Linked DNA regions of Homo sapiens. The protein of the gene in region 4 purifies or fractionates together with the protein of the main gene of each other region. This does not show direct contact. Each region holds a gene or a part of one and is shown on either strand. Other genes may lie near its edges.

Evidence for each region.
Region 1: the proteins of CLCC1 (region 4) and DAZAP2 purify together in Homo sapiens (co-immunoprecipitation; 3 studies listed by BioGRID and IntAct, with this or other methods). This does not show direct contact.
Region 2: the proteins of CLCC1 (region 4) and PLSCR1 purify together in Homo sapiens (co-immunoprecipitation; 3 studies listed by BioGRID and IntAct, with this or other methods). This does not show direct contact.
Region 3: the proteins of CLCC1 (region 4) and UBR1 purify together in Homo sapiens (affinity purification with mass spectrometry; 3 studies listed by BioGRID and IntAct, with this or other methods). This does not show direct contact.

What each region holds. Positions count from the first base shown.
Region 1 is NC_000012.12:51,233,566-51,241,825, reverse strand, and holds the start of DAZAP2 (DAZ-associated protein 2), read right to left. Parts: upstream 3,001-8,260; 5' UTR 2,919-3,000; coding exon 2,906-2,918; intron 1,484-2,905; coding exon 1,365-1,483; intron 956-1,364; coding exon 710-955; intron 1-709. UniProt on the Homo sapiens protein: In unstressed cells, promotes SIAH1-mediated polyubiquitination and degradation of the serine/threonine-protein kinase HIPK2, probably by acting as a loading factor that potentiates complex formation between HIPK2 and ubiquitin ligase SIAH1.
Region 2 is NC_000003.12:146,541,534-146,549,636, forward strand, and holds the start of PLSCR1 (phospholipid scramblase 1), read right to left. Parts: upstream 3,075-8,103; 5' UTR 2,934-3,074; intron 1-2,933. UniProt on the Homo sapiens protein: Catalyzes calcium-induced ATP-independent rapid bidirectional and non-specific movement of phospholipids (lipid scrambling or lipid flip-flop) between the inner and outer leaflet of the plasma membrane resulting in collapse of the phospholipid asymmetry which leads to phosphatidylserine externalization on the cell surface.
Region 3 is NC_000015.10:43,053,526-43,061,582, reverse strand, and holds part of UBR1 (E3 ubiquitin-protein ligase UBR1), read left to right. Parts: intron 1-1,468; coding exon 1,469-1,531; intron 1,532-1,757; coding exon 1,758-1,881; intron 1,882-2,390; coding exon 2,391-2,498; intron 2,499-3,153; coding exon 3,154-3,242; intron 3,243-5,140; coding exon 5,141-5,239; intron 5,240-6,683; coding exon 6,684-6,841; intron 6,842-8,057. UniProt on the Homo sapiens protein: E3 ubiquitin-protein ligase which is a component of the N-end rule pathway. Recognizes and binds proteins bearing specific N-terminal residues that are destabilizing according to the N-end rule, leading to their ubiquitination and subsequent degradation.
Region 4 is NC_000001.11:108,939,377-108,947,402, forward strand, and holds part of CLCC1 (chloride channel CLIC-like protein 1 isoform 1 precursor), read right to left. Parts: exon of another isoform or gene 8,010-8,026; coding exon of another isoform or gene 7,962-8,009; intron 4,682-7,961; coding exon 4,460-4,681; intron 4,240-4,459; coding exon 4,099-4,239; intron 2,123-4,098; coding exon 2,029-2,122; intron 767-2,028; coding exon 669-766; intron 407-668; coding exon 260-406; intron 1-259. UniProt on the Homo sapiens protein: Anion-selective channel with Ca(2+)-dependent and voltage-independent gating. Permeable to small monovalent anions with selectivity for bromide > chloride > nitrate > fluoride.

The DNA.
Region 1 (8,260 bases), on a different chromosome or scaffold from region 4:
TCTTAGCCTCCCAAGTAGCTGGGATTACAGACGCCTGCCACCATGCCCGGCTAATTTTTGTATTTATAGTAGAGTCGGGGTTTCACCATGTTGGCCAGCCTGGTCTCAAACTCCTGACCTCAGGTGAGCCACCGTGCTTCGCCCTTACACAGTTTTTGAATGAACTACTGGAAAACTGAAGGCTCGCTAATGACACATTCACTTCATCTCTAGCATGTAGTTACTGAGCAGTCATTTGAGCTCTAAATCCCACGCACTGGGGAATTAAGTAGGAAAAAATGATAACTAAAATTGTTAATATCTTTCTAAAAGCTACTTACTAGGGATTATACATTCTACTTTTTTAATTATCAGGGTTCCTAGTGCAACACCATGCTGATGGCAAATATTAAGTAAATGGTAAATGCTTATGGAATGAATAAGGAGCATTACTAGACCAGTTCAGTGTACCACAATGAACTGGAAAAGCAGCAAGCAGGACTCGACAGACATGAAAACAAAAGAATCTGGTTAACTCAGCCCCCAGTGAGATGCTACTCACTTGCCACAGTTCTGCCCCCTCAAACACTTTCTGCCTGAGTATTGGATGTCAGTAGTTGTACCAACACTGGCAACTATCATCCAGAAATGGTAAGAGAATGAATATGAAGTCATTTCAGAAAGTTAAAATACACAAGGGCTGAGTTTCTTCTGATGAGGTCATACTCACAGGAATGTTGCCAGCAGTAGCCCCAGCTCCAAATCTGGCACCTGCATCATACCCTCCTTCCACCAGCACTGTGGAGCCAGGTGGATAGATGGGACCGACTGGATAATAAGCCATGGGGATTGTGGAACCTAAAGGCCCAACAGCCACAGACTGGGCCATGGGAAGATACAGAGAGGCTCCAGGAAATGCGGCTGACATGGTGGGGACTGTGGCAGCCCCTGGGTGCACAAAGCTCGGACGATAGAGCTAGAAGAGGCAGAAGAGAAGGCAAAATGTTACTTTATGACATTCCTATTTGAGATCTCTTTAATGAGCTAATTCTTAATTCTCCTTATGCAGGTTATACTTTTTGTAAGATTATACAAGTTGCCTTTCCACTGGCCTTCAATATTCTCCTGGATCACTTTCTGCTATAGCTAATGTTGGGCTCACAGAACGCAAATTCATCTTCTGCACCTTAGCCTGTGCCAAATAACACAAAATCATCAAATAATGCACTTTCAACTCCGACAAAAATTGCCAAATTATATAGTGTTTTAGATTATTCATGTTAGCATTTGTGAAGAGTAAATATGTGAAGTCAGATTTAGCTAAGGACTAAAGGACCACCCTAAGAGTATTCCCAGCTAGTTCAAATCTGGCAAACTGGAAGCACCTCTGAGTAGGCAGGTGGAGCATCGGTATAGGGTGGAGCCTGAGGAAGATGCAAGGTCTGAGGGTATACTGGATTCCCAGGAGGCTGCACAGGGTAGGTTGGCTGTGTTGGATATTGACCTGAAAGACAAGAAAAAAATGAAGGTTGCCTACTACACAGAGCTACCAAAATGAGGCAGGTCATATCGGGTAGCTAACTTAGTGGGAGCAAGCAGAAGGGGATTTGCAAATAGTCTGCCCCAGAGGGCCTGATTCCTGGAACTAAGAAAATATGCATTGTCTTTGCACCCTTAAAATGGAAGGTGCTGGATTCTAACGAGACAAGAAAGGCACTGCTCACTGCTCCTACTAACATACCGAAGTAAGGGGTTAAGTCTACCTGGGCCCAAGTTCCCTCCGGAATGCAGGACAGGTCTGGGGTTCTGGCCTGCTGCTGTTCTGGCTTATCAAGGGTGCCTCTGCTCTAGGTAGTCTCCACAGCCTGTCTACAACCAGCCCAGACTTCGTGGGTAACAGCAGTTCTGATTTTCCTTACAGATTACTATTCAAGGTCGACTTCCAAACAAAGGGTGTGAATGATGGAAGTGAACCGTGAGACTGGGAAAAGGGTGCAGGGCTGAGGGGTGAGGAGGAATATCCTCACTGGAAAAGCGGGGGATCAGGTTTGGTTTTTTGTTTGTTCTGAGACGGAGTCTCGCTCTTTTGCCCAGGCTGGAGTGCAGTGGCGCGATCTCGGCTCACTGCAACCTCCGTCTCCTGGGTTCAAGCAATTCTCCTACCCCAGCCTCCCGAGTAGCTGGGATTACAGGCGCCCGCCACCACGCCCAGCTGATTTTTGTATTTTTTAATAGAGACGGGGTTTCACCACGTTGGCCAGGCTGGTCTCGAACTCTTGACCTCAGGTGATCCGCCCGCCTCGACCTCCCAAACTGCTGGGATTACAGGCGTGAGCAACCTCGCTCGGCCTTTTTTTTTTTTTTTTTTCTATTCCTTTTTTACCCCCTCAACCTATTCCTGCGTTATGGGAATCATGTTCCGACAGACACACTGGTACAACCACAGAAAAGGGGAGAAGTTCTGATCCCGTCAGCGAAGGGCGAGGGGGTGCGAAGGGAAGGAAAAGAGACCTCACAGGCCCCGGCCCACGAACCAACTCCAGCAATTCAGTAGTTAAGTTCGGCCCCGCTGGGGGTTCCGGAGCGCGGCGCCCCGCCTCCGCCGGCTCTCCATTGGCCTACGCGAATGCCTGCGCTAGCGCTCTATTTGCTCCTGCGGATGCCCATCATGTCAAGCCCCCCCACCACCCGAGCCCGCAGCTCCAAACTGCGCCACAGAGTTTACGGAGGAAAGGGCCTGGAGGCAGCAAGCTGCCGTAATTTGGGTATGACGAAGGCGTCAGGCGCAGCGCCCTGGACTGCAGCCGGCCAAGGAGCATGGCGCAGCCCACCCCAAACCTGGCGTTTGGTGACCCTGGGCTCCGAATCCGCTCGCTCTGGGCCAGCAGTACTCCCCCCGACGGCCTCTGCCACCCTCGGTCCTTGCCTTTGCTGTTCATGGTGGTTGCGGGTCCGGTTTGTCTCGGCGTCGCGGACGGTTATTTTTTTCGTCCTCTTCCTGTTCGGAGCTACTTCCGTGTCACATGATGGTCCGTCCGCCTAGCGTCACCCGACGCCCGAGTGGCGCTGCCGCCGGAAACTCCGCCCCTGCTCCGGGCCTCCAGTCGGCCGCGGGAGGGTCCGCGCGGTCCCGCCCACTCGCCTTGGCCCCACCCCCTGCTCGTTTCTGTCCTCCCCCCCCCTACCGGTGTCCCTCAGCTGGAGAAAAACCAAATGCAGGTATTGTCTGGAAACAGGATCTTTTCTCTGTTGGACGCTCGGATGCAGAACGATGCAAGCATTCCCCGGAACCTTTTTCCACCTACACGCATTCACTCAAGGTCACCTCACCTTGGCAACCTTCCACGAGGGGCTTAGATTTCTGCAAATTTGTCGCACTGCCTGAAATCGGCTCCCCACACCTTAGTTTATCATGCGTCCCTCCCCACCAAGCCCAACTTAAGCTTCAGCTCTGTTAAAATTTATTTTGCCACTCCAGCTCACATGTATCCTTTCCTGAATGAGACCTGCACTGGAATCTTCGCTGCCCTGTCTTCCCCAGGACAGTCGTTGCCTTTCTCACGTACAGGAAGGGGTTATGTTTTCCGTGCTGTACGCAACACCTGGCACTGAAACTGACATAACTGCACTACCCATGGAGTGTTTGTGGCCCTTTCCTTTTTTTAGCACCTGTTGCAGGTGACCTGTATGGTACCTCTATTTTTCTCTATGTATGGCTTCTCTTTCTAACCTAATTATCCTTAAGGGCAAAGATGGCATCCTTTAGGGCAGCGATTAAGTGTTTTCTTTTCTTTTTCTTTTTTTTTTGAGACGGAGTCTTGCTCGCTTGCCCAGGCTAGAGTGCAGTGGGGCGATCTCACCACAGCCTCCACCTCCCGGGTTCAGGCAATTCTCCTGCCTCAGCTTCCTGAGTAGCTGGGCCTACAGGCGTGCGCCACCATTCCTGGCTAATTTTTGTATTTTTAGTAGAGACGGGGTTTCACTATGTTGGCCAGGCTGGTTTTCTTTCTTTCTAAAAAAAGTTTTAATTTTTTCTTTTCTTTTTTTTTTTTTTTTTTTTTTTGAGATGGAGTCTTGCTCTGTCGCCCAGGCTGGAGTGCAGTGGCATGATCTCGGTTCACTGCAACCTCCGCCTCCTGGGTTCAAGCAATTCTCCTGCCTCAGCCTCCCGAATAGCTGGGATTACAGGTGCCCGCCACCACGACCGGCAAATTTTGTATTTTTTAGTAGAGACGGGGTTTCACCATGTTGGCCAGGCTGGTCTCGAACTCCTGACCTCAGGTGATCCACCTGCCTCGGCCTCCCAAGGTTCTGGGATTACAGGCATAAGCCACTGCGCCGAGCCTTATTTTTATTTATTTATTTATTTATTTATTTATTTATTTATTTATTTATTTATTTTTGAGACAGAGGCTTGGTCTGTCGCCAGGCTGGAGTGCAGTGGCGCAATCTCAGCTCACTGCAACCTCCGCCTCCAGGGTTCTAAGCGATTCTCCTGCCTCAGCCTCCCGACTAGCTGGGATTACAGGCACGTGCTATTCATTTTTTAATACAGAGATGGGGTCTCCCTGTGTTGGCCAGGCTGGTCTTGAATTTCCAGCCTCAAGCGATCTTGCCACCTCCATTGTCCAATGATTAAAGGGTTAACTCTTAGGACCCAGGAACTCTCCTGGGCCTACCTCCTGCTCATGTAAACTGCCCTCAGATTGGTCAGGCCTACTTTACAGGTTGTTGGGTATTTTGCTTGTCACAGTGGGACCTGGGCATTGGGAAAACCAGGGCAGAGCCAAATGAGATTACTAACAAAAATGAAAGAGTTGCAGGCCAGTGCTTTCTCTGGCAGGTGGAATTAAGAAGTAAATGGTGGCTGGGTGCAACAGCTCACACCTGTAATCCCAACACTTTGGGCAGCCTAGGCAGGAGGATCGCTTGAGCCAGGAGTTCAGAACCAGCCTAGGCAGCATAGTGAGACTTCATCTCTACAAAAAAAAGTAGTAGTAATTAGCTACTTTCTTGAACAGGATCAAACTTTGGCATTTTCTTCATTCTCGTAGATTCCCCAATGAGATGAAGATGTTTATTTGGTCATTTATCAAACATTCTTTCTTACATTAATTTAACAAATATTTTTTGAGCACCTATTATGTGCCAGGCCCTGTGACAGGCACTAGGGAAATAATAATGAAGAGACAGGCATAGTCCATACTCTCATGGAATTTATGGTCTACCTAATGGGAGAGACAGAAAAGTGAACACATAATATGATTAGTGCTGACATAAAGACAGCATGGAGTGTGAGGAGAACACATAGGTGAGGCACCTACTCTATTCTGATGTAGTCAGGGAAGGTTTCCTGATGCAAGTGATGTCTGAGATGAAATCTGAAGGGTGAGAGCAGGTTAAGCAAGTGAAGAGGGTTCCTGGAAGAGGGAACTGCTTATGCAAAGGCCTAGAGGTGAGAAGGCTTATAGAGGGGGAGGGCATGAAAGAGTTCAGTGTAGCCAGAGCATACTGGTAAGGGGACTGATAAAAGATGACCCTGAAGATCCGGGTGCGGTGGCTCATGCCTGTAATCCCAGCACTTTGGGAGGCCAAGGCGGGCAAATGACTTGAGGTCAGGAGTTCGAGACCAGCCTGGCCAACATGGGGAAACCTCGTCTCTACTAAAAACACAAAAATTAGCTGGGCATGGTGGTGCGTGCCTGTAATCCCAGCTACTTGGGAGGCTGAGGCAGGAGAATTGCATGAACCTGGGAGGCGGAGGTTGCAGTGAGCCGCGATCGTGCCATTGCACTCCAGCCTGGGTGACAGAGCAAGATTCTGTCTCAAAAAAAAAAAAAAAAAAATTGACGCTGAAGAACTGTGAGCCAGACCTTGCAGGGACGCCTTAGAGCCCATGTAAGATCCCACATGAAGATACTGGATTCTATGTTAAGGGCACTAGTTAGCCACTGAAGAATGTTAAGCAGGAAAGTGATATGATCTTGTTTTTGTTTGATTGATTGATTGATTGGGACAGGGTCTTGCTCTGTCACCCAAGCTGGAGTGCAGTGGTGCAGTCACAGCTCACGGCAACGTTGAACTCCTGGTCTCAGTTCATCCTCTCACCTCAGCCTCCCGAGTAGCTGGGACAGTGGGTGCTTGCCACCATGCCTGGCTAATTTTAAATTTTTTATAGAGACAGAGTCTCACTTTGTTGCCTAGAGTAGTCTAGAACTCCTGGCCTCAAGCAATCCTCCTGCCTCGGCCTCCCAAACTTGGGATTACAGGCGTGATCCACTGCTCCTGGCTTGTGTTTTTCTTTTAGAAAAATGCTTCTGGGCCAGGCACAGTGGCTCATGCCTGCATTCCCAACAATTTGGGAGTCCAAGGCAGGAGGATTCTTTGAGCCCAAGAGTTCAAGACCAGCCTGTGCAACGTGGTGAAACCCCATCTCGGCAAGAAATTTCTAAAAAAGTATCCAGGCATAGAGGCACGCACCTGTGATCCCAGCTACTCGAGGGGTTGAGATAGGAGGACTGCTTGAGCCCGGGAGGTCGAGGCTGCAGTGAGTCGTGGTCACACCACTGTACTCTGCCAGCCTCGGTGATAGAGGCTATCTCAAAAAAATAAAGAAAAGAAAAGGAAAAATCCCTCTGGTTGCTAAAGAATATAGAATAGGTTAAAGAAAGGGCAAGAGTGGACGTATGTCTGAGATACCATTTAGAATCAAATTTAGTCATTTAGGTGTGATGATGGCAGACTGGCCTAGGGAAGAGGCAGTACAGTAGAGAGAAATGGGGGGATTCCAGAAATATCCAGGAAGCAGAAACAACTGGACTAGTTCCAGGACTAATGTCAGGACAAAATTTCTACAAAGTCAAAACTCCATATAGTCAAATGACAAATTGGAAAAATATATTTGTAATTTACATCACAAAGAGCTAATCTTCCTGCATGTAAAGAACTCTTAGACATCAGTAAGAATATGATCAACCATTAGAAAAAAATGGCAAATGACATTTACAGACAGACAGTTCACAGAAAAGGAAAAACAAATGACTCCCTAACACATGAAATGATGTTCAGCCTGGGTCGTAATCAGAAGGCAGATTAAACCCCACCGATATCATTATCAGATTGGCGAAAATCCAAACATTTGCTAACATTATTTGCAGGGCTGTGGATAAGCAGGCATTCTAATTTGTTGGTGATGGGGGTGAAAATTGGTACAAATCCTATAAGGTTAATTTGGCAATATCCATCAAACTTGCAAACATACCATTCCCACTAATGGGAGTGATTCTACAGATATATTTGCACTCACGAGAAACGTATGTATAAGGCTATTCATTGCAGCTTTTCTGTAACAGCAAAAGATTAGAAATAACCCATATTTCTATCAATAGGAAACAGAAAAAATAAATCTTGATACATCCATACAATAAAATACTATGTGGCTGCAACAGAGAATGAGAAAGTACTCCAAGGTGTTCTTTAAATAAAAAAGGGAAAGATTCAAAACCATATACTTAGTGTGATACATTTTATTTATTTTATTTTTTATTTTATTTTGAGACAGAGTTGCACTCTTGTCACGCAGGCTGGAATGCAGTGGCGTGATCTCGGTTCACTGCAACCTCTGCCTCCCAGGTTCAAGTAATTCTTGTGCCTGAGCCTCCCAAGTAGCTGGGATTACAGGTGTGCACCACCATGCCTGGCTAGTTTTTGTATTTCCAGTACAGGCGGGGTTTTGCCATGTTGGCCAGGCTGGTCTCGAACTCCTGGCCTCGAGAGATCCACCCGCCTCGCCCTCCCAAAGTGCTGGGATTACAGGCGTGAGCCACCGCACCTGGCCAATATGATACTTTTTATGTCAAAGAGCAGGGAAACCAAGAATATTCATCAGAATTTGAGTAAAGAAATTCTGGAAGGATACACAAAATACCTATAAAAGTGGTTACATAAGGGGGAGAGGGAGTGGAGGATGTGAGACAAAGGTGGAAGTGACTTTTTACTATATACTTTTTAGACGTTTAAAAATATTTGAACCTATAATCCGAGCACTTTGAGAGGCCAAGGCAGGAGGATCACTTGAGGCCAGGAGTTCGAGACCAGCCTGGGCAACATAATGACACCCCATCTCCACACACACAAAAGTAAATCAATTAGCCTGGTGTGGTGGCACATACCTATAGTCCCAACTACTTGGAAGGCTGAGGTGGGAGGATCACTTGAGTCCAAGAGTTCGAGGCTGCAGTGAAGATAATGGCACCACTGGGCTCCCGCCTGAATGACATAG
Region 2 (8,103 bases), on a different chromosome or scaffold from region 4:
TTAATAATTCATATTCTTTGCACCGATGTCTCTAATTCACTGAAAAAAGGAAGACTGACATCCTTCAGTGAAATTTGTTAAAAGACTCTTTTAAGGTTATCTTTCTTATGTAAGACAGAAAAGGCTTGAATTTCAATTTACTCTTGTGCCACTTAGCTTTAACTAGGCCAGGTGCTATGGTTAGAATGTGTGAGCTAAGTTCATGTGTTGGAAACTTAATTTCCAATGCAACAGTGTTGGGAGGTGGAGCCTAATAAAATATGATTAGTTTATAAGCACTCTACCTTCATGAATAGATTAATGTCGTTATCTTGGGAGTGGGTTTGTTATTGCCAGAGTAGGCTTGTAAGGAAATCAAGTTCCACTCTCTCTTGCTGTCTTGCCCTTCCACTTTCCACCATGGGATGATGCAGTAAGAAGACCCTCACAAGATGCTGGTGCCTCCATACAGTCATGCACCACAACAACAGATCACATATATGATGGTGGTCCCATAAGATTATTTTTACTGTACCCTTTCTATGTTTAGATACATAAATACTTGACATTGTATTATACTTGCATACAGTATTCATTACAGTAGTACATGCTATACAGGTTTCTAGCCTAGGAGCAACACCTTATTCCACACAGTCTAGGTCTAGTAGGCTATCTGCCACCTCACTGGTCATTCCTTTTCTTGAATGAGCCAAGTTCCCTCCAGCCCAGGACTTCTACCTGTGAGGTTCCCTCTGTCTATAATGCCCTCCACCAACCCACTCACCCACACGTCTATAGACTAGTTGATTTGAGACTTCCCTCAGCTCTCAATCTGACTCTCCTCAACACCCCCAACCCCACCACCCCAGCCTAAATAGTAGGCTGGCTATAGTATCCAGGATTGTGTAAGTAAATTCTATGACGTTCTCACAACCACAAAATTGCCTCATGATGCATTTCTCAGAATGTATTCCTGTATTTAAGCAACACATGATTATGTTGGACTTCCTAGCCTCCAGAACTGTAAGAAATAAATTTCTGTCCTTTATAAATTACCAAGTCTCAGGTATTCTTTTACAGCAGCAGACAACATATGGAGACATCATTTTTTTCTAATCACTTCTTAAAAGAACATATGGAAAATTGAAGAGTGCAACTATTAAGTTCTGATTAAAAAGTGTTTTGGTTTTTTAATTTAGCACTATTCAGGGCAGTGCAATACAGTGTGTATATACACAGATACACATATATACACATAGAAATTCTTCCTATATAAATATTCACTAAATATAAAGCTTGTGTGGTTTTAAAGGAATTAATTGAAGGCATAGAGCATGCAAGGCACTATACCAGGCACTAGAGCACAATACCTAGACACTAGGGGAGACAGACAATTAAGAATTAAATATATTATTAAAAATACTCTAAGTGCTATAAATAAAATTAATGTTGCTATAAGAAAGGGTTATGGGGCACTAACTTAGATGGTGGTAGGGGGTTTAAGAAAAGTCAGACTAGGAGATGAAGGAAGTCTCAAATCAACTAGTCTATGGAGGTATGGTGGGTGGGGTGTTGGAGGGCATCATAGATAGAGGGAACTCCATAGGTAGAATTCCTGAGCTGGAGGAACGTCCCTCATTCAAGTAAAGGAAGACGAGTGAGGTTACAGAGCAAAAGAGGGAGACATTCTTAGAGATGAAGATGGAGAAGTACATAAGGGTCTGCTCACACACATCTGATGTCTCTCCACCTGTATGTACTCTAAGCTCCTTTACAGATCTAAAGGCAGTTTGATCTATAAACCAGCTATTTTACATGCCACTTTTCTATCCAATTGCATAAATCCACTCTTTCCCTTTATATGTCTTTTTCATTTCCCCGCATTTTCTCATTGTTCAAAGCCCTACTATTGTTGTAAACAGGGTGGCATTAAGACAAAGGTTTGCTCTTAGAAAAAGTTCAAGAAGGGAGCCCCCAAACTGTCTGACACGTTTAAGTGTCACTTGTAGTAACCATGTATCTCAATGTGATAAGCCAGAAAAAACAACGACTGCCTGTTCCTGGAACTGGGAAGTGGCCATGCCAAGACTTCCAGGAATAACAGTGCATGAATGAAACCACCTGGGAACCAGAGAATCAGCTTGGAGAAGCAGGAACTTTGTCAAATATTTAAAATAATAAGAGCTAACTTTCACTGAGTACTTTCTGTAGCGCCAGGCACTGCTCTAAGAATTTTACATTAATACTCTGTAGCTCATTTAATAGTTACACAATTTCAGAGATGAGGCAATGGAAAGAACATATATAAGAAGAAAGTGGCTGACAGTCCACAGACGTGAAGCAGTAGAGGCCGAATTTAAAGTCGGGGAGCCTGACTGGAGCTAATGGTCTTAGGAACCGTGCTAGATACCGCCACTATCTTTCCTAAGCTGGTATTGTAGAGGGCCTAGCATAGATGTGGGCTCCGGCGGACTTCATTGAATACTTACTGATAAATGACAGCTTGCAGGCTGTATTAACCATTCCTTCTAATAGCCCCACTACGCTGGCACATGCTCCTGAGCCCAGACTCTACCCAGGATTCAGGGCCGCTCTCTACCTGTAAAGCAGTGTAGCTAAGGGGAAGCTGAGCCCCGCAAGGCGTTTTCAGGCAGGGCACCCCTTGTCATTCGAATGGTTCTGGGGTGAGCCCGGGTGCCGCTGGGCCGCCTGGGGCCCCTTGCCGTGTACCTGCTCCACTTCCAGGGTCCCTTTCAGAGGCCTCTTGCATTTCTGGCCCCAACCTTCACCCCACATCCTCCACCCCCAGAGCAGCAAACACAACCTGCGGGCCCTCGCGCCGGTTCCCCACAAGTTGCCCTCCACACCTGACCCCGGCCCTGGCCCCAGCGCAGGCTCCGCGCAGTTCCCGCGCCCAAGTCCCCAGGAGGCGGCAGAGAAAGCCGCCCGCGCACCTCTGGCTGCCGCTGTTTCCGCTCCCGAGCGAGACAAGGTCCAGAGAGCCGGGGCCAGGCGATGGCTTCCTCTTCTGCGCCTCTAGACTGCCGGGCACAGCTGCTGCGCAACCTTCTCAGAAGTCAGCCGGAAAAGGGTCTGGGAGTAACCTTTGCGCCAACACCCGCGGCTCCTGGTTTCGTTTCCTGAATCTTACGTACACAACACGGTTTCCTTTTCCCGGTTCCCGCGCTGGCGCTCGGGGACCCACGAGACTACTGGAGGGTGAAGGAGCTGGAGGAGGGACTGCGCCCACCCCCTGGTGTGAGGCCCCTCCCCTACCCCCGACTTGCTTTCTTGCTCATTGGAGAGACTCCAGAGACGTTTGTCCGGTGGTTAAGGAGAGGAACTGGGACTCCGACACTAACTGGAACTGGAAAGTCATCAGCTGGGGAGTGGCCTCCCCCGGGAACTTTCTTTACTCTGGCTTTGACCTCCATCCCTCGGAAGCCCGTGGCTTTTCAAGGCGAGGGAGTAGAGGCAGCTTAAGACTACAAATGAGGAGGGGCCAAAATTGTTTTTCTTTATGGTGCCTTTTCTTTCTTGCTGTCTTGCTCTTTCTTTCCTTCTATTAAATTATGTGATATTACTTTTTAATTTTTAAGCAGTTATTTGAATGTTTTCGAGCTCACTTTATTTTTTTATAAATATTGTTCCTTTTTAAACTAAAATAGTTTTTATTCTGTGTATTTAAGTTATTTGTATGACATATCCATCAACTCCTATAATTACACATTTCCCCCCTTGGGGCAAGAGCAGCTATAATCTACTTATTTAGCATAAATCCTGAATACCACTATCATTAACTATAGCCCTCATGTTGTACATTAGGTCTTCCCATTTGTTCATCCTACGTGTTTGTAACTTTGTATACTTTTACCTAAATTTCCCCATTTCTCCTGACCCCACTCCAACCTGGATGACCCTGGATAAACCAGTGGTCCCCAACCTTTTTGGCACCAGGGACCAGTTTCACGGAAGAGGATTTTTCCATGGACCAGGGCCGGGTGGCAGACGGTTTCAGGATGATTCAAGCACATTACGTGTATTGCGCACTTTACTTCTATTATTATTACATTGTAATATATAATAAAATAATTATACAACTCACCATAATGTGGAATCAGTGGGAGCCCTGACCTTGTTTTCCTGCAATTAGAAGGTCCCATCTGGGAACGGTGGGAGACAGTGACACCAGAAGTGTGTTGCTTATGTCCAGTCTACTCCGTAATCTTGTTTTGGTTGCTGTCACTGCAGAAAATCCTGCTTCACAAAGATAGCATGTTGGAAATGGAAGCAGACTCTTCAGTGCTTTTGTGGCAATCTCAGGATATCCCACCTTGAGTTTAATCCAGAACATGGGATTTGAAGCTGTCTCAAACATACTTTTAAGGCCACCATCATTTGTGATCTCAAGCAATTGATCCTCTTCTAGTACGGACAAAATCGATTCACCTGACTTACTCACAAATGGGTCATGGATACATTCATTCCCAGTTCAGGGTTCTTTTGTGGTTGGGTAGTAATGCTCGAACTCTTTTGAAAGCTAAGATAGGTGATCATGCATCAGCTGAGAGAAAGAAGCTGCTGGCTCAGTCTTCTTCAAAATCTCTGCTAATGTTTGAAACATGTCAAAAATCTCAATGTTCATTCGTTGCCCCCATAATTCCAGTTTGGCTTTCAATGCAACCAATTTATCTGCTTCCTTGAACACAGTTGTCCTTCTCTCCTGAAGCGACAAGTTGAGTTCATAGATCGAGTTGAATACATCACACAAGTAAGCAAGTTTTGCAACCCTTTCTGTGTCACTGAAATGTGCCGCCAATGGTGACTGATTTTCTAAAATAAATCTCTGGAGCAGCTCTCATAATTCAAAAATTTCAGCCAGTGATCTACTTTTAGAAAGCCATCTCATTTCTGTGTATAAGAGAAGACATGCATGCCCAGTGTCCATCTCCTCACAGAGCTGCACAAACAGATGTGAGTTAAGAAAATGTACTTTAATGTGGTTGATTATTTTTGTCACATCCTGCAAAACATTGTTAAGTTCAGGTAACATTTTTCAGCTAGCCAGCATTTTTCTGTGGATGACACAGTGCATAGACTCACATTCTGGTCTCTTTGACCAGAGTAGTGAAACCAGAAAGCCATCCAGTCATGGCAGCCACTCCTTCCATGCATATACCTACACAAAATAACCAATTCAGTTTTCTTGATATGTAATCATTCAAAGACAAATAGTTCTTCAGCTGTGGTTTTGATTGGCAACAAAAATTCACATAATATATCCTTGTGCACATCTTCCTGAAAAATATATCACACACAAAAAAGCATTGTTGCTTTGTTGTCAATATCAGTAGACTCATCAACCTGGATTGCATACCAATTGCTAGAGAGGATTAATGGTGACTCATTAATCCTCTCTAACAATTGTACCTCGATATTCTCTGCTATTTCATCAATTCATCTAGTTATGGTGCTAGCCAGAAGAGGAATATGTGCTATTTTTTGAACTGCAGCCTCTCCTAAAAGTTCCCAACAAATGTCCTTAGCAGCAGGCAGGATCAATTCTTCACCAATAGTAAAGGGCTTCTTAGCTTTAGCAATGCAGTTAGCCACTATGAATGATGCTCTCAGTGCAGACACATTTGATGACATGGTGGCCTTCAATAATTGCTTCTATGTGTTCTTTGTGTTCATGGTTTCATGGTTTCTGTTTTTTTTTTAAACAAAACAAAACAAAAAACTCCAAAGGCTTGTCTTTTAATGCAGAGTGCTTGGTCTCCATGTGGCAAAGTAGTTTTGCAGGTTTCATGGCTTCATTGGGCAGTTGGTCACCACATATTATACAAAGCAGGATTGGAGAATGTGAACCACCTGTTGCAATGAACCTGTAATTTAAGTAGGACTCTTGGCATTTTCCTTTAAGTGCAGCTTTCTTTTTGTTAGCAGTCTTAGAGTCTTCTGTTATCTCACCTTTGGGTTTTTCCCCATTTTCAAAGAAGCTGTCCAGTGATGTTTGTTTTTCACTCACTTTGATGTTTTTAACAAAAACTTTTTTTTAACAAAAACCCTTGTTTTTCACAAGGGTTAGCTTGTGGGCTTAGCAAAACTGTGACTAAGACAAGTGCACAGTGTGGAAAAGAGGTGCAGATGGAAGTGGTAAAATAATGGGTGGGCCATGCACAGACTAAAATAAGTGTTGGATTCTGACTTAAAGCCTGCCACCAGATGCAACTGTACAATTGAAGTACATCAATTTTCCACTATAAAGCCTGCCTCCAGACACAGCTTAATTGTCACTTGTCATTTGCCCCTCACTGATAGGGTTTTGATATGAGTCTGCAATCAATGTATTTATTATGGTCTCTGTGCAGTCAAAACTCTCTGCTAATGTTAATCTGTATTTGCCGCTGCTGCCCGATGCTAGCATCACTGCCTGAGCTCCACCTCAGATAATCAGGCATTAGATTCTCCTAAGAAATATGCACCTAGATCCCTCACATGTGCAGGTCCGTGGCCTGGGGCTTGGGGACCCCTGCTATAAACCACTATTGTATATATTTGACCTTTTCTTAATTTCATATAAGTGAGATTGTGCAAAATTTTTCTTTCTGTGTCTGGCTTATTTCATTTAGCATAATGCCTTCCAGGTCCATCCATGTGATAGCACCTGGCAGAATTTCCTTCTTTTATAAGGCTGAGTAATATTCTATTTTGTGTGTATCTGTGTGTGTGTATACACACAACATGGAATATATGTATCTTTATTTATACAGTTGTCTATTGATGGACACCTAGATTATTTCTATTATCTTGGCTATTCTGAATAATGCTGCAATGAACATGGGAGTGCGGCTATCTTCAGGAGACGGTGATTTCATTTGCTTTTGGTATATACCCAGAAGAGGGATTTCTGGGTCATATGGTAGTTCTACTTTTAATTTCTGTAGGAACCTCCGTACTGTTTTCCATAACGGCTGCACCAGCCTACATTCCCACCTACAGTGTACAAGGATTCTCTTTTCTCTACACCCTTGCCGACACTTGTTATCTCTTGTCTTTTTGATAATACCAATCCTAACAGGTATGACGTAGTATCTCATAGTGATTTTGATTTGCATTTTTCTGATGAATAGTGATGCTGGGCACATTTTCATATACCTGTTGGCTATTTTTATGTCATTTTTGAAGAAGTGTCTATTCAAGTCCATTTCCCATTTTTAAATTGGGTTATATGTTTTCTTGCTATTGAGTTGTATAAGTTCTTTATAAATCTTGGAAACTCAACCCTTTTCTGAGAACATGATTTGCAGATATATATTTTTCCAATCTATAGGTTGCCATTTCATTTCGTTGATTGTTTCCTTTGCCATGCAGAAGTTTTTGGTTTGATGTAGAAATAATATTGTTAAAATGTTCATACTACCCAAAGTAATATATAGATTCAATGCAAATTTGTATGAAACCACAAAAGACCTCAAATAGCCAAAGCAATTCTGAGAAAAAAATTGAAGCTGGAGAAATAACACTTCCTAATTAAAAATTATATTACAAATTTATATAAAACAGAATGGCACTGACATAAAAACAGATATGTAGACCAATGGAACAAAATAGCTCAGAAATAAATCCAAACATACACGGTCAACTAATTTTTCACAAGGGCCCCAAGAGAACACAATGAGGAAAGGATGGTCTCTTGAATAAATGGTGCTGGGAAGACTGGATTTTCACATACAAAAGAATGAAATTGAACTGTTGTCTTACACCACACAAACAAATCAAAAACAAAATGGATAAAAGACCTACATGTAAGACCTCAAACCGTTAAACTCCTGGAAGAAAATATAAGAGAAAAGCTCCTTGACATTTACCTTGCCAAAGATTTCTTGACTATCACACCAAAAGCTCAGGCTACAAGAACAAAAATAAATAAATGGGACTATACCAAATGATATTTTAAATATGTTTTGAAATCAAACCAACCAGATTTGTTTAGAATGTTTATTTTTCCAGCCCTGCAGCTGGCATAGAGACATGTAATAAATAAATATTTATTGAACTGAAGGAATAATTATTTTCCTTTAAAATTTGTTATTTACAAAAGTAATGTGATTTTTTTCCAAA
Region 3 (8,057 bases), on a different chromosome or scaffold from region 4:
GTGTGTGTGTATATATACATATGTGTGTGTATGTATGTGTATGTGTATATGTGTGTGTGTGTATCTATATCTATCACAGTTTCTTTATCCACTCTGATGGGCATTTCAGTTGGTGCCGTGATTTTGCAATTGCAAATTGTAACTGCCATAAACATGCGTGTGCAAGTATCTTTTTTCGTATAATGACTTCTTTTCCTCTGGAAAGATAGCCAGTATTGGGACTGAGTATTTGGGGTGTCTCCCAGGTCCTGCAGGAGCAGTCCCCTTGCTTCAGAAGGTCTGTAGGTCCTCTCTGGATTCCTGGTTTGTTCTTACAGTCGTTCTGGAGCTAAAATTCATGATGTGAGCCTCTGTGTGCTGCTCTGTCCATCTGAGTCAGAGCTCGGAGCTCCAATCTAGTCCTGTCTCCCATCCACCATGATCAGCAGCTAACTCCCTTCTTATTTTTTGATAGCAGCCAAAAAATATGGATGTGAGGTGGTTTTCCTCCCCCTGTTTGTTGAGATCCACTGCTTTAGGTTAATTGCCAGCATCACATACATACAAGCTGATTGAGCTCGAGTTTATGTAACTATTCTTGTCCAATCTGTTCTTTTAACAATCTCTTATGGCCTGGCTTTTTGTGCTTTTTTTTTTTTTTTCTGTAATGGCAACCTTACTGGTGTAATTAGTAGTCCAAATATATTTGGATAGTTCTTATGCTTATGTACTAAGCAGCTAAAGAGGGAATATTACAGGATGGTTAAAAGTACAGACTCTGGAGATGAAATGCTTGTCATGGATCTCTGAATCTGTCACTTGCTAACTTTCTGATTGGGGGACAAATTAACTTCTGTCTTATTTTTCTTTTTATCATCTGTAAAATGTGGTATACCTTCTTCATAGGGTCATTGTAAAGGTTAAATGAGGAAGACAGTGCTTCCTGACTTTTTTCACATGGCACATATAGAAAATGATGAATTTTTACAGGTGGGTAAAAGAATGAGCTACAAGGAAATCCTACATAGACCTTGCATGACCGCCTCCAGGACTGGTGGAATCAGTAGTCCAGCTATACTTCCCGCTCGTTAATGGGCCACAAGTATATCATAGGATACATGTTGAAGAGCTGTGAATTCATTCATGAAAAATATTTTAAATACATAGCAGAAGTTTAGAAAGCCTGAGTCATTGTTTCATATAAGTAGAGAGGACACTGCAGTAACTAAAGAACTGCCATTCCTGCCAGGCAAGAAACTCAGCATCTTAAACTATAGACTGTCTGTCCTAGAGGTATTAAAGTTTTCATACTTCATAAAGGTGTTAAACATTTGCATCTGTCTTTCAGATATTGTTCCGGTATCTTACAACTTTTAGTCAACACGCGATTAGAGCTCAGTTAAGAGCTCATTAAGTCTTTGGGCTACATATTGCTTATTGATTGTGGTTATCATTTCACTACCTAATTCTCACTTTTGTCTATAATTAGGGTCGTCGGGCTGTTAAAGCGGGAGCTTATGCTGCTTGCCAGGAAGCAAAGGAAGATATAAAGGTAACTTTCTGAATTAGGGGGAAAAAGAGAAGTTAAAGATGAATGTACATTACAAGAGCCCAAGTAGAATAATTTGAGTGATGATGTCGTTGAAGTGGTTTGGGGCACCTAGATGCAGAGATTTGGAACTGGCAGGGTTATGTGATTTCTTCATTTGAAGTATAAATCCCTTAACTAAAAGCAAATTTTAAATGCTATTTTTTTGGTTCGTTCCCTTCATTTGTAGAGTCATTCAGAAAATGTCTCTCAACATCCACTTCATGTAGAAGTATTACACTCAGAGATTATGGCTCATCAGAAATTTGCTTTGCGTCTTGGTTCCTGGATGAACAAAATTATGAGCTATTCAAGTAAGCATACCTCCTGTTTTTCTTGTTTCTGATAAAATACTATGTGTTTTATAGCCACAAATTTTAAAATGTCATTGAGTATGAAATAAAGTTTTTCTTTTTTTTTTTTTTTTGGTTTATACACTTTGATTAATTTTCAGGGTTGCATTTCAAATGTATAATATCTTAGGATATTATTTCAAGTGCATAGTATCAAATAATATCTTTTTATTGGCTGTTGAGTCTTTGATGTTGACAGAATTATTCTTTGCCTCAAATGTGGGAGGATTAATATTATTCTTTTCACATGTTATAGGAAATGTACTTTTAGGAGAAATGTTATAAGAATAAAAATTATGGCTGAGTACAGGGGCTCATGTCTGTAATGCCAGCACTGTGAGAGGCTGAGGTGGAAGGATCGCTTGAGCCCAGGAGTTCAAGACCAACCTGGGCAACAGAGTGAGACTCATCTCTATTTAAAAAGAAAAAGAATACAAGTTGTGTAACTGTGTGACCTCTTTTGTTTGTAGGTGACTTTAGGCAGATCTTTTGCCAAGCATGCCTTAGAGAAGAACCTGACTCGGAGAATCCCTGTCTCATAAGCAGGTTAATGCTTTGGGATGCAAAGCTTTATAAAGGTAAGTAGACATTTGCTTATGCTGTTTGTCAGGAAGCAAAGGAAGATTATGACCTTAAAGTGGAGCTGTAATATCTTTTGTTTATTAAATTAGTTATTAAATCTGTAATCTTGATTGATAAGATACTACATGTGAATATAAAGTTTAACCAGTCAGTATGTATTCTTTGGTGTTAAAACCCAGGGATGTTGTCTTTTAATTATAGAGTCTTTTCATTTAGTGAGAGCCAGTCAAAAAGAGTATATATGTATGTGTCTATACATGTATCTATATATTCAGGTAGTAGTGCCATTATCGAGTAGCGAAAAAGATGCTATTTTCATTGTAAAAATCTAAATGAAGAACAAAACGTAAAAGGCTAAAAGCATGGAGAAGGAAAAGTACAGTGAAATAGAAAAAGAATGAAAAGGTTGGGAGAGAGTAAATTGAAGTGTAAGATGAAGTGGTGGGAGGGGTGCAGAAAAAGAGGGAAAAGGCAATATATGTGTGTATTTTAAATTCCAGTTATTAAATATTAATACAATAAATACTATTTGAGGTCTGTTTGCATGTGAAGTAATTTTATAATATTCTGCCACTCTAATAGCCAGAATGTTTTTGGTTTTTGCCTTGGTGATTCTCCTCATTCCCCCACCCTCCCCAAAATAATCTATAGGTGCCCGTAAGATCCTTCATGAATTGATCTTCAGCAGTTTTTTTATGGAGATGGAATACAAAAAACTCTTTGCTATGGAATTTGTGAAGGTAATTATTTATAAATTAGATATCAATAAATAGAAATAGGCAGTTTTTATAAATGAATTAATAGAAACAGGGATAATTATGAATCAAAAATTAAATGTTATGATTTATTTCTTTGTCAAAAGTTTGTTCTTGGCCCTGCGGGTTGGCTCACGCCTGTAATCCCAGCACTTTGGGAGGCTGAGGTGGGTGGATCATTTGAAGTCAGGAGCTCGAGACCAGCCTGGCCAACACGGTGAAACCCCGTCTCTACTACAAATACAAAAATTAGCCAGGCATGGTGGCAGGTGCCTGTAGTCCCAGCTACTCAGGAGGCTGAGGCAGGAAAATCACTTGAACCTGAGAGGCAGAGGTTGCAGTGAGCCAAGATCGCGCCACTGCCCTCTAGTCTGGGCAACAGAGTGAGACTCCCATCTCAAAAAAAAAAAAAAAGTTCGTTCTCATACGTTATATAAATATTTTCACAAATGTTATTTGCTAGTATAGAAACAGCATTCTTAGAGAAGAGATAGGTGGAAAATGACCCACTGACCCAGAGCAAAGGGAGGTTATCACATTCACATATGCATTCAGTCTTCCTAATCATTTATTTGCCTGTTAGTAAAATTACAATAAGAATAGAAGTGACTAATTGAAAAGTATAGCAGGAAAGAAGAACAGATGTGTATGCTAAAGTGGGGGGCAGGAATTAGGTGGCCAAGAGTTCTACTTAGTTTTTGGAAGCTAAAGCATAAGGCTAAAATTTACAGCTTTTTAATGTTTTATTAATCTATCGTGTATCTCTTACCTTACTGTATCTTTTTGTCTATCTACCAAATTAGATTGCAAGGGTATACAGATCAAGGACTCCTTTGAATCTTTTATTTTGCCTTATATAAGGCAATCATACTTGCCAGTCATACTTGTTGATTTCCTCTGATTTTGAGTTGCAGTCAATTCTGTAAGACTTAAGATAGATATAGGACCCAAGATGGAATTGGAAGCAGAGAAAGAAATAATGATTGTTGTAGGCAAATGACACTGTGGGATAAGATACCTGCATTACCTGGATTTTATATGCAGACTTAAAAGTAACTAAGACATTTGTTGTATGTCTTATCCTTCAGCAGTGATGGCAACTCAAGATGTTCTCTTCTAAAACTCTTCAGATATAGAATATTGGACCATATGTGTGATCTGAAATGAAATTTTGTTTTCTTATACAAAAGCTAATCTCCCTACTTAGATGATTTTTTTTGTACACCATGGTTACCCCTTAAACTTTGTAGGAATTCTGGAGGGTAAAGTATCTAACTTAAAGTAGGTTAAGTATCCAACTTTGTGCCTTACACATAATAGATGCCTATTATGTGACTGAGTATATTCCTATTTTTGTTCTCCCAGTATATCAGGGTTGTTTTGCAGCTGTTATGTACCAGTATGGGAAAGAAGTTATTTGCAGCCAGCATCCATTCTGTTTAAGGCTGGATTCAATCTGATTGGTTGGTTTTTCTGGGTCATATCAGTTGTTAAATACTTTGAATATATTCCCTGCCCAATACCATTAGAGTGGAAGCTGCTAAAGATTGCCCCAGATTCTGTTTGGAGAAAGGATAAACTATACCATTGCAGTCCTCTGTTTTTTGTTTGTTTGTTTGTTTGTTTTTTAACCTATGTGTATATTTTAATAGTTTCCACTTCTATCTCTGCTAAATTGAGTAGGTGAATTTTTACTTGATTTGTTGTTTGTTATTCTCCTTCTAAGATATTTTTGCTGATCATAATATCTTGCCTTAATAAATAGGAATTATATTACTTGACATTTTATAGATAGAAACAAACCTGCAGCAGTTATTAAAATTGGGATTTTTTAAAGGTCTTTAGTAGTGATTTATAATTGATTCTCTACTTATATATTTCAGTATTATAAACAACTGCAGAAAGAATATATCAGTGATGATCATGACAGAAGTATCTCTATAACTGCACTTTCAGTTCAGATGTTTACTGTTCCTACTCTGGTATGTATTGATTATTCCTTTTCAGTCTTTCTAAGTAAAACTTGTTTTGCTTTGTAAGAATTCCACTTAATGTTGAATCAAATTAGAACAATGTTAGAATCACTAAGTTGGGCTATGTGAATACTTTAGTGCTACCCAAGGACTAGTTAACTAGGCGCTGCCTTGGTTCAGATGTCCTCGTCAATGCAGATGACACCTAGAGCTGGTTTCTTACTTTCTAGAGTAACTTATGAACACTGCCTTTTCAATACCAAAAATATTTTATTTTTAAGTTATTGTTTGTAGGCAGATAGAATAAGATAAAACTAAGAAGTGGGAGGGTGTGCCTGTCAAGCATTTGGGAGAGAGGGTGCTGCATAGGCCTGGGAGGAGAGTGGAAGATTCTGCTTCCTTTGTATACCACTTCTTTTCTTTGTTTTTTGTTTCTTGAGACAGAGTCTTGGCTGGGTTGCCCTGGCTGGAGTGCAATGGGACGACCTGGGCTCACTGCAGCCTCCGCCTCCCGGGTTCAAGCGATTCTCATGCCTCAGCCACCCAAGTAGCTGGGACTACGGGCAGGCACCACCACGCCTGGTTGATTTTTGTATTTTTAGTAGAGACGGGGTTTCACCATGTTGGCCAGGCTGGTCTCAAACTCCTGACCTCAGGTGATCTGCCAGCCTTAGCCTCCCAAAGTGCTGGGATTACAAGTGTGAGCCACCGCGCCCAGCCCTACTTCTTTTCTTGTCTGGAATTAGATAGTTATCCAAACTTGGTTAATTGTTTCTACTTTACTTTTTCAAAAGGATGGAGAGGAGAGTTTAGATTGGGGTAAGGAGGAGATTTCAGAATAGATCGTAGTGTGCTAGAAGTCATGAAGTATATCTTTGTTATACTTGCTCATTGTGTGATTTTTTTTTTTGAGATGAAGTCTCTCTCTGTCACTCAGGCTGGGGTGTAGTAGCACGATCTCGGCTCACTGCAACCTCCGCCTCCTGGTTCAAGCGATTCTCCTGCCTCAGCCTCCTGAATAACTGAGATTACAGGCATTGCCACCACACCTGGCTAATTTTTGTATTTTTTGTGGAGATGGGGTTTTGCCATGTTGACCAGGATAGTCTCGAACTCCTGAGTTCAGGTGATCCGCCTGCCTCGGCCTCCCAAAGTCCTGGGATTACAGGCATGAGCCACCACATTACTGATGATAAACATTTATCTAGATAACCTGTCTAATGGGCTTGGAGTATCCAGATAGGTGTTGTCTAGTTACTGAGGAGTAGGGAATTTTTTCTTTTAGAAAATAACTTCTTAGTAGTTGCTATTCAGTGAAACTAAGGACTGTGTTTAACATTCAATAACAAACATTTATTAAAAATGACATACTGACTAACCAAATGAATGAATAAATTAAGTCCATACCACAATGAGTTAATGCTAAAGAAAATATTCTTGAAATATTCCGCAGGCTCGACATCTTATTGAAGAGCAGAATGTTATCTCTGTCATTACTGAAACTCTGCTAGAAGTTTTACCTGAGTACTTGGACAGGAACAATAAATTCAACTTCCAGGGTTATAGCCAGGACAAATTGGGAAGAGTATATGCAGTAATATGTGACCTAAAGTAAGTTGTTCAAGTCAAAAGGTGAGGGCACCTGTTAAACTCAGTGTGCTTATTTGCTGTGTCTTATAAGTAATCCTGTGATCATTTTGGTTATCCAGAATTCTCTTTATAATGATGGCAAGTACAAAGAACTGTTACTGCCTCGCGTTAATAAATGTCTTCAGTGAAGGCTTCTTATTGAGTTGTAAAACCTGGTTAGTAAAGAAGGTATTGAGGAGAGGCCCATTACAGGAACTTGGGATCTCCTGGGGTCACCAAATGCATTGCCATTGTAATTACCATACTTTTCATTCACTTCCACTCACACACTTTGGTTCTGTCCTTCCTATATAGTCTCTTTGTGCATAGTTTCAGACAATCTATTGACATAAATTTCTTTCTTTTTTTTTTTGAGACAGGGTCTCGCTGTGTTGCCCAAGCTGGAGTGCAGTGATGCAAACATGGCTCACTGAAGCCTCAACCTCCTGGGCTCCAGTGATCCTCCTGCCTCAGCCTCCCATGTAGCTGGGACCACAGGCACGTGCCACCATGCCTGGCAAATTTTTTATTGTTTTGTAGAGACGGAGTCTCACTTTTTGTTGCCCAGGCTGACTTGGACTCCTGGGGTCAAGCAGTCCTTCTGCTTTGGCCTCCCATAGTGTTGGGATTACAGTCATGAGCTACTGCGGCTGGCTGTTAACATTTTTTTAACTCCTTTTTGCTATACAGTTGATCCTCCGTATTTGTGGGTTCCACATCTGTGGGTTCAACCAACCGCAGACTGAAAATACTCCATTTTTTAAAAATTGCCATGAGGCTGAGGCAGAAGAATCGCTTGAACGCAGGAGGTGGAGGTTGTAGTGAGCAAAGATTGCGCCACTGCACTCCAGCCTGGCAACGGAGTGAGACTGCATCTCAAAAAAAAAAAAAAAAAATTGCGTCTGTATCAGACCAGCCTGGACAACATAGCGAGACCTTGTTTCTACAAAAATAAAAATAAAAATTAGCCAGGTACAGCAGTGCAAGCCTCTATTCCTAGCTACTCAGGATGCAGAGGCGAGAGGATCACTTGAGCCCAGGGGTTTGAGGTTACAGTAAACTGTGATCATGCCACTGCACTCCAGCCTGGGCAACAGAGCGGGATCCTATCTCTAAAAAAATAAAATAAAGTTCAGTAAATTATTATATTTTATCTTCAGTATAAGTGGAGATGGTAGGTAAATTCAGTAGTGAATCA
Region 4 (8,026 bases):
GCTCACTGCAAGCTCCGCCTCCCAGGTTCACCCCGTTCTCCTGCCTCAGCCTCCCGAGTAGCTGGGACTACAGGCGCCCGCCACCACGCCCGGCTAATTTTTTGTATTTTTTTTAGTAGAGACAGGGTTTCACTGTGTTAGCCAGGATGGTCTCGATCTCCTGACCTCGTGATCCGCCCGCCTAGGCCTCCCAAAGTGCTGGGATTACAGGCGTGAGCCACCGCGCCTGGCCCGACAGTGCTAATATATTAATACTAACCAGGATGGCTAATGCCATAATTATCAGCACTGGAAGATGAAGCAGCGCTGGAATTTCCTTCATGAGTGCTTTAATAAATTCCCCAGTTCCTTTTCCAATATGCTTCAATGGCTCCGTTACAAATGTGGTGAATGTAACTGCAAGTGCCTAAAACGAGAGAAAAGCAACTTAATTTTCTCCTCACAGGACTAAGGTACAGAATGCATCAAAATTCATTGAGTACTGATGCTGAAAGTATGTTACATAAATTAAAATGCTGTTGTGCCATTTTTAATGTGAAAATCACTGTGCAAAAGTATTTTTTCTTGGACAAACGCTTATTAGCAAAATGACTCAAACACTAAAGTTCTTTAAAATACAAGGGATTTCTGACTGACTTTAAGTAATTTTTACAAAATATATGCTATACCTTTGTTGGTGGGACCAACCAAATAGGGTTGACTAGTAAGAGCTCATAGTATTTTTGGCATGGGTCATCCTTATAGGTCCATGAACTTCTAAACCATTCTGTTTAGAGAAACAGACAAAACACTGATCATTTCTTTTAATGTTGCATTTCATTCCCAAACAAGACATTACTTTGGTTTTGACCCTCCCTGACCACCCACCAATGAGTTTTAAATTATCTTAAGTTTTAAGTAGACTCCCTGTAATGCTGATTTTTAAATTTTTCATCTTATGTCCAAAATCATGTTTTAAAAATCCATTCAAATTATACATGTTTTATGCAGATAAAAAATTGTATTTTATAAAAATGTCTAAAAGGTAAACACTTTAAAAGCAATGCTTCACAAACACAAATGAGTACAGGTAAAATGGGAAGTCGAAATAAGACTGGTGGATTGTATCAAAGTCAATATCCTGGCTCTGATATTGTACTATTAAAGCTGTGCAAGATGTCACCACTGGAGGAAAATGGGGAAAGGGTACACGGGCTCTCTCTGTAGTATTTCTTACTGTGTGAATCCACAATTACCTCAGTAAATTTTTAATTTAAAAAGTCAGTTCTTTATGGAGTTTACAAAATAAAGTGGAATATTAGTTCTAATTTTTCCAAATCAGGCTTATATACGTTGGGAAACTAGCCTGAGCTAGAGGAGGCATTTCACTGTCCACTGAAGCCAGGAAGGAAGGCTGAATTGGTTTAGTTCCCACAACTTTTTAAGAAACATTTATTTTGGATTCCATCTGCAGAATTCCGTGTCAGTCATGGACTTGCATTTATAAAATGCCTTGGAACATTATTAAACCATCCCCATTGCTAGATACATACAACCAAAGGTAGTGAACATTCATGAGAATGTTTATAAAATGTGAAAGAATAAAAAAACTAATTTTTCCCGTAGTTAAAAAAAAGTAAAGCTACAACATAAAATTTCACAAGTCAATATAAGGCCATTAAATTTAAGATGGATATTAATTCATATATACATTCATTCACTTGTTTAATAAACTTCTATTGAGAATATGCCAGACCCTGTGCAAAGAACGAGATGAACAAAAGCGAGCATAGGATCCTTCACACAGTCTTATGAAGGAAGACAGATAATATCAGAGCCAACATATATACAACTTCTATTCCTTCCCTGTGACTTTAGATGAGCATAAAAAGTCACTGGTTTTAAACCTAAAATGCTTCTTGCATGTTCTTCTGATATTAAAGATTCAGTCATGGAAAGCCTCCTGTTATTTTATCATTCTCTTTGTTCTATGTTCTTTCATTCTCAGAATTTCTATTCAAAATAAGGACAAGTGCACAAACACCTTACCCCAGATACTTCCAGTCCAGTCCATCTTTTTGGCACACACATTGTTTAATGGCTCCATCTTGGCGACTTCAGCCTGATGCTGTGCAAAAGCTAGCTGCCCAACACCAAAAGGGAACCAGGAGAGGCCGTTACCTATGAAGGTTAGGCCTACACATCCAAAAGACCTTCATTCAAAGAGTGTCTTTACCATTCATCCAAACCAGACTGTTATAAATTTTTAATTAAAAAAAAACATATTATTATTACTATTTTTTCTCTTTTTTTCCTGAGACGGAGTCTCGCCCTGTCACCCACGCTGGTGTGCGGTGGCACAATCTCGGCTCACTGCAACCACCACCTCCCGGGTTCAAGCGATTCTCCTGCCTCAGCTTCCCGAGTAGCTGGGATTAAAGGTGCCCGCTACCACGCCCAGCTAATTTTTGTATTTTTAGTAGAGACGGGGTTTCATCATGTTGGCCAGGCTGGTCTTGAACTCCTGACCTCAAGTGATCCGCCCGCCTCAGCCTCCCAAAGTGCTAGGATTATAGGAAAACATATTATTTGTAAAGAGTAGCTATTTCCAGTTCATGGAAAAGTACAGCCTTAATGCAACAAGTAAGCATAAAGTACTAACTACAATTGCCTTCTCTGTAAGTAATTATAATGAAAAAGGGAAACTTTACTAAAAATATTGTTTTTAAAAATTAGTTCAGCCAGGCGTGATAGCACGGGCCTGTAGTCCCAGATAGGAGGCTGAGGCAAGAGAATCGCTTGAACCCGGGAGGTGGAGGTTGCATTGAGCCGAGATTTCACTACTGCACTCCAGCCTGGGGGACAGAGTGAGACTGTCTCAAAAACAACAGCAACAACAACAACAATTAGTTCTAGCCATACAAATTAAATGACTACTTCTTATTTTCTTTTATAGTTGATGATATCCTATTTTGCACTGGATAATTTCCAGTACAATGACCAATATACAATCATTAAGGTGACAATACTCAAGCAACTTTCCTTCCACACAGAATCTGTGTTTAATTTGTAAATAATTAGTTCTAAATACTATAATACTTACAGCAAAAGGTTAAGGAAATGTCACAATGCTTTAACCAGATGAAATCATTGAAAATACTTGGCTACTTGACTCACTCTGCTAGAAAGATCTAAAATTTTCTTTCAATGATTATTATTTATGCTATGTTGATGGGAACAGTAGTGGTCCTTTCCAATTTCTATATACAGTATGATCCCAACTTTGAAAGATAATTAAAATCTAGAAAAATCTAGAAAGAAATACCTTAAACTACTGACAGATTTTCTCTAGGTGATAAAATTATAGGTTATTTTAAAAATTAATTTCCTTGTATCTGCCTTTTCTAAATTCTCTGCCATGAATATACCACTTATTCAAAAAATAACCTAATTTTTAAAAAATAATATTTTGGTATCATTTCTAGCAAAGACATAGAATGACATACTCTAAATTACCTACATGATAATTTTTAAATGTATCCACATAGCTTTATTCTTTTTTTTTTCTTCCTTGTTTTTGAGACAGACCTCACTCTGTGGTCCAGGCTGGAGTGCAGCAGCGCAATCTTGGCTCACTGCAACCTCTCAGGTTCAAGCAATTCTCCTGCCTCAGCCTGCTGAGTAGCTGGGACTACAGGTGCACGTCACCAGGCCCAGCTAATTTTTGTATTTTTAGTAGAGACAGGGTTTCACCATGTTGGCCAGGCTAGTCTTGACCTCCTGACCAAGTGATCTGCCCACCTCAGCCTCCCAAAATGCTGGGATTACAGGCATGAGCCACCACACCCAACCCACCTGGCTTTATTCTGACTTAGATGCCCAAATGTTAACATTAACTGGGTTATGAAAATTAGGACTGAACTTTTTTACCCACTAACTGGTCAAGGAATCAAAAAACTGTCAGCTAAGAAGTGTCCATTTAATTCCTCTCCAGCGTGGGCCACCTCTAATCACTGCCTCCAACCCACATCCAAGGCAAGATTGCTCTCAATGGATTAGAGTCTTCTTTCATTGTGAATAAATGTGTTAAAATTGTAAAACCCTCCATCCATATAATACCTTATATAAATACATCCAATTCCATCCCAAACTGAACAGAAAGCTGATGATTAAAACACGTCTCAACTGAGTGTACCAACGTACATATGTCCACAGCTCAGTAGCCACTAAAACCACGATGCAGAGCAGACAAAGAAGTACCTTAAAACAGAGAGAAGCAGAAATCAGCCACCAAAAACACTTAAGACAGCTAAAAAGAACTGGACTCAAAAGCACAAAATCATTTCTACAATTTTGTGGCTTGTTCATCAATACGGTATAAGTGACCTAGTACAGGTTCTTAACGTAATTATGGTGGAGTTTGGAAAGTATTTTAAAAAGGAAACTTAATGACGTTGCCCTTGCCCTCATCCCATCTTACCATTAACACATTATATGGATCCACTCCAAAGGAATCTTCGAATCGCCACTTCCATGTTTCAAAATCATGAAACTTAAAATTAATTAAAATATCACTTAGTGCATCATCCAAGGCACCTGGTTTCCAGTCTTCTCCATTGAGAAACTTCTGTATTTCTAACAAAGTTTCTCTTTTAAGGATAATCTCAGCATCATAATGCATATCGCCTTTGTTTTCATCAGGCTAAATTAAATTTACCAAAAAACAAACAATAGAAAGAGAATTTTATTACTACTTGGTGAACCATTTTAAGACAAAAGCCAATTTGGAACTAAATATTAGTTTGCAGTATTTCATATGTATAAGAATAATAGCCTGGGCAAGGTAGCTCACACCTATAATCCTAGTGCTTTGACAGGCCAAGGTGGGAGGATAGCTTGAAGCCAGGACTTCAAGACCAGCCTGGGCAACAAAGCGAGACCCCATCTCTACAAAAAATTCTAACCATTAGCTGTGTGCAGTGGTGTGCACCTGGCTCCTGCCTACTCAGCAGGCTGAGGCAGAAGAATTGTCTGTGCCCCGGATTCGAGGCTGCAGTAAGCTATGAGCATACCACTGCACTCCAGCATGGGAGACAGAGTAAGACCCTGTCTCTAAAAAAAAAAAATAATAATAATATCCACCTGTCTTCACAGGCCAACATGAAAACCAAAGATAATATACATGAAAAACATTTAAAAATTCTAGAACTCTATGTAAAAAAGATACTGTAAATTTCACTAAAATACAGTTGATTCTTGCTATTCGCAGTAGTTATCGTCTTTTTTTTTTTTTAGATGGAGTCTCACTCTGTCGCCCAGGCTGGAGTGCAGTGACGCAATCTCTGCTCACTGCAAGCTCCACCTCCTGGGTTCACGCCATTCTCCTGCCTCAGCCTCCCATGTAGCTGGGACTACAGGTGCCCGCCACTACGCCTGGCTAATTTTTTCTATTTTTAGTAGAGACGGGGTTTCACCGCATTAGCCAGGATGGTCTCGATCTCCTGACCTCATGATCCGCCCGCCATGGCCTCCCAAAGTGCTGGGATTACAGGCGTGAGCCACTGCACCCGGCCTCACAGTAGTTATCTTCTATAAAGTCACCTCAAACACCAATTAGCAAGTACTGAACCATTACTCCTATAATAAATACAGGGTTTGGTTCGTGCAAACCTGTCATAACATTTTTATCAATTGATCAATATATAACCTTGTTTTATGTGTGTTTCTGTACATTCCTGTTTAAGGACACCTTATTTAAAATACATATTGTTCATTCACTAACACTGAACACATGGACAACTGTCCTATACCTTACGCTTGACTGAAGCCTATCTAATACACACCTTTTCCTTTTCTCTGTAAGTACATCGTGGCCTTCTTGCACTTAGAAACACTAGACCTCAGCTCAGCACTACATCAGAGGGCCGTTTTAAACAACGAAATGATGCTGTTTAATGATTGGTCTCAAAATAAAAATAAAAAAAATCACCCCTCTCCCCTCAAAAAAGCACGAAAAAATATACCACTAAATAGACCACAAAAAAAGACACTTGTTTGCAGTACGAGAGCTGAAACAAGAAAACAGTTTTGATTGCCTTGTTCCATCTCAGCTGGGAATGCCTGCAACAGGCAACCCAAATTTTTTACCACTCTTCACTGTGTCCCAGAGTAACCACAGAACACCTCGATTATTGACTTTGGGGTTACACAGACTTAATGAGGTCAATTCATAAATACGGAATCTGTGAAGAATGAGGATCAACTGTGCATCTTCATTTTATGATTCACTGCATGACTTTTCATTTCCTGACAGTTTTCAGATAGCCTAAAATCTGTATTAGTGCAAACAAGAAAAACAAGAAGGATCTCAAAGAGCAACAAAATAATGGGTTTCCATAAATTACATATTTATAACTACCTTTATTAGTGTGAGTTCAGCTTAGCAAAATCACTAAACAAATTTTGCATTAATTAGCCAGTTGATACAAATAAAATTCCTTTTTCTTTTATAAACAGTAAATACAAGGTGGGACATGGTGGCTCACACCTGTAATCCCAGCACTTTGGGAGGCCGAGGCGGTCAGATCACTTGAGGTCAGGAGTTTGAGACCAGCCTGGCTAACATGGTGAAATCCTGTCTCTACTGAAAACACAAAAATATTAGCCAGACGTGGCCGGGCGCGGTGGCTCATGCCTATAATCCCAGCACTTTGGGAGGCATGAGGCAGGCGGATCACGAGGTCAGGAGATCAAGACCATCCTGGCTAACACGGTGAAACCCTGTCTCTACTGAAAATACAAAAAATTAGCCGGGCATGGTGGCGGGTGCCTGTAGTCCCAGCTACTCAGGAGGCTGAGGCAGGAGAATGGTGTAAACCTGGGAGGCGGAGCTTGCAGTGAGCGGAGATTGCGCCACTGCACTCCAGCCTGGGTGACAGAGCAAGACTCTGTCTCAAAAAAAAAAAAAAATCAGAAACTAAATATTTTCCAGCATTTCCATCTTAAGTATTTTTGGTTCCATCTGTTTCCTTATCTAGGTTCTGTTCCACCCTGTACGTAGCTGTAAGGCTCAAATTACAGAGTGTACGTATGAGAACGCATCTGCTTCTACATTTCCAGAATAAGGTGGCGTTATTCATCTAACACTCCTTTTTCTTTTGGTCACTTCTTACTGTACCAGGAAGATGGAGTATATGGCAAGTTTTGCCAGCCTACACTGTGCTGATGCAAGGGCCTTTCATTTTCAGGGATCTGCCTGTAACCACTTCTGGCAGGTGGGGCTAATGGCCAGATCAAGACCAAAGGCTGGTCTCTGACTCTCTAAGTCAATTCTGGTGGCACACACAATAGGAAAAAAAAAGTCTATGAGCTTTTAAATGAGCTTTCTAAATGTTATAAGTTATTAAATTTATGTTTTCTTGATGTTTTCACTTTGGTAAGTGAATTAAAACTAAATTAATGCATTAAGTCTGGGAAGTTTTCACTTCCCAAAGTGAAAACAGTGACTTCTTAAAAATAGAAATTTTGGCCAGGTGCGGTGGCTCACACCTGTAATCCCAGCACTTTGGGAGGCCAAGGCAAGCGGATCACCTGAGGTCAGGAGTTTAAGACCAGCTTGGCCAATATGGCAAAACCCCATCTCTACTAAAAATACAAAAATTAGCCAGGCATGGTGGCAGGTGCCTGTAATCCAGCTACTCGGGAGGCTGAGTCAGGGAGAATTGCTGGAACCCGGGAGGCAGAGGTTGTAGTGAGCCAAGATTGCACGACGGTACTCCGGCCTGGACAACAGAGCGAGACTCTGTCTCAAAAAAAAAAGGAAATTTTAACAATAATTATGAACAATATGTCTATAAAGTAGCACTCACCACAGTAAACAACAAGGAGAAAAACTACAGAAAACACATTTTTCTTTTTCTCAGCATATACTGAGAGAAAACAAGGAGTAGGATCAGAACAGAATTATCACCCCACCTCCTCACCTCCATTAACTGGTGGAGCAGTGCACAGAGCTGAGTAAGTAAATCCATACAAACTAGAGGAGAAA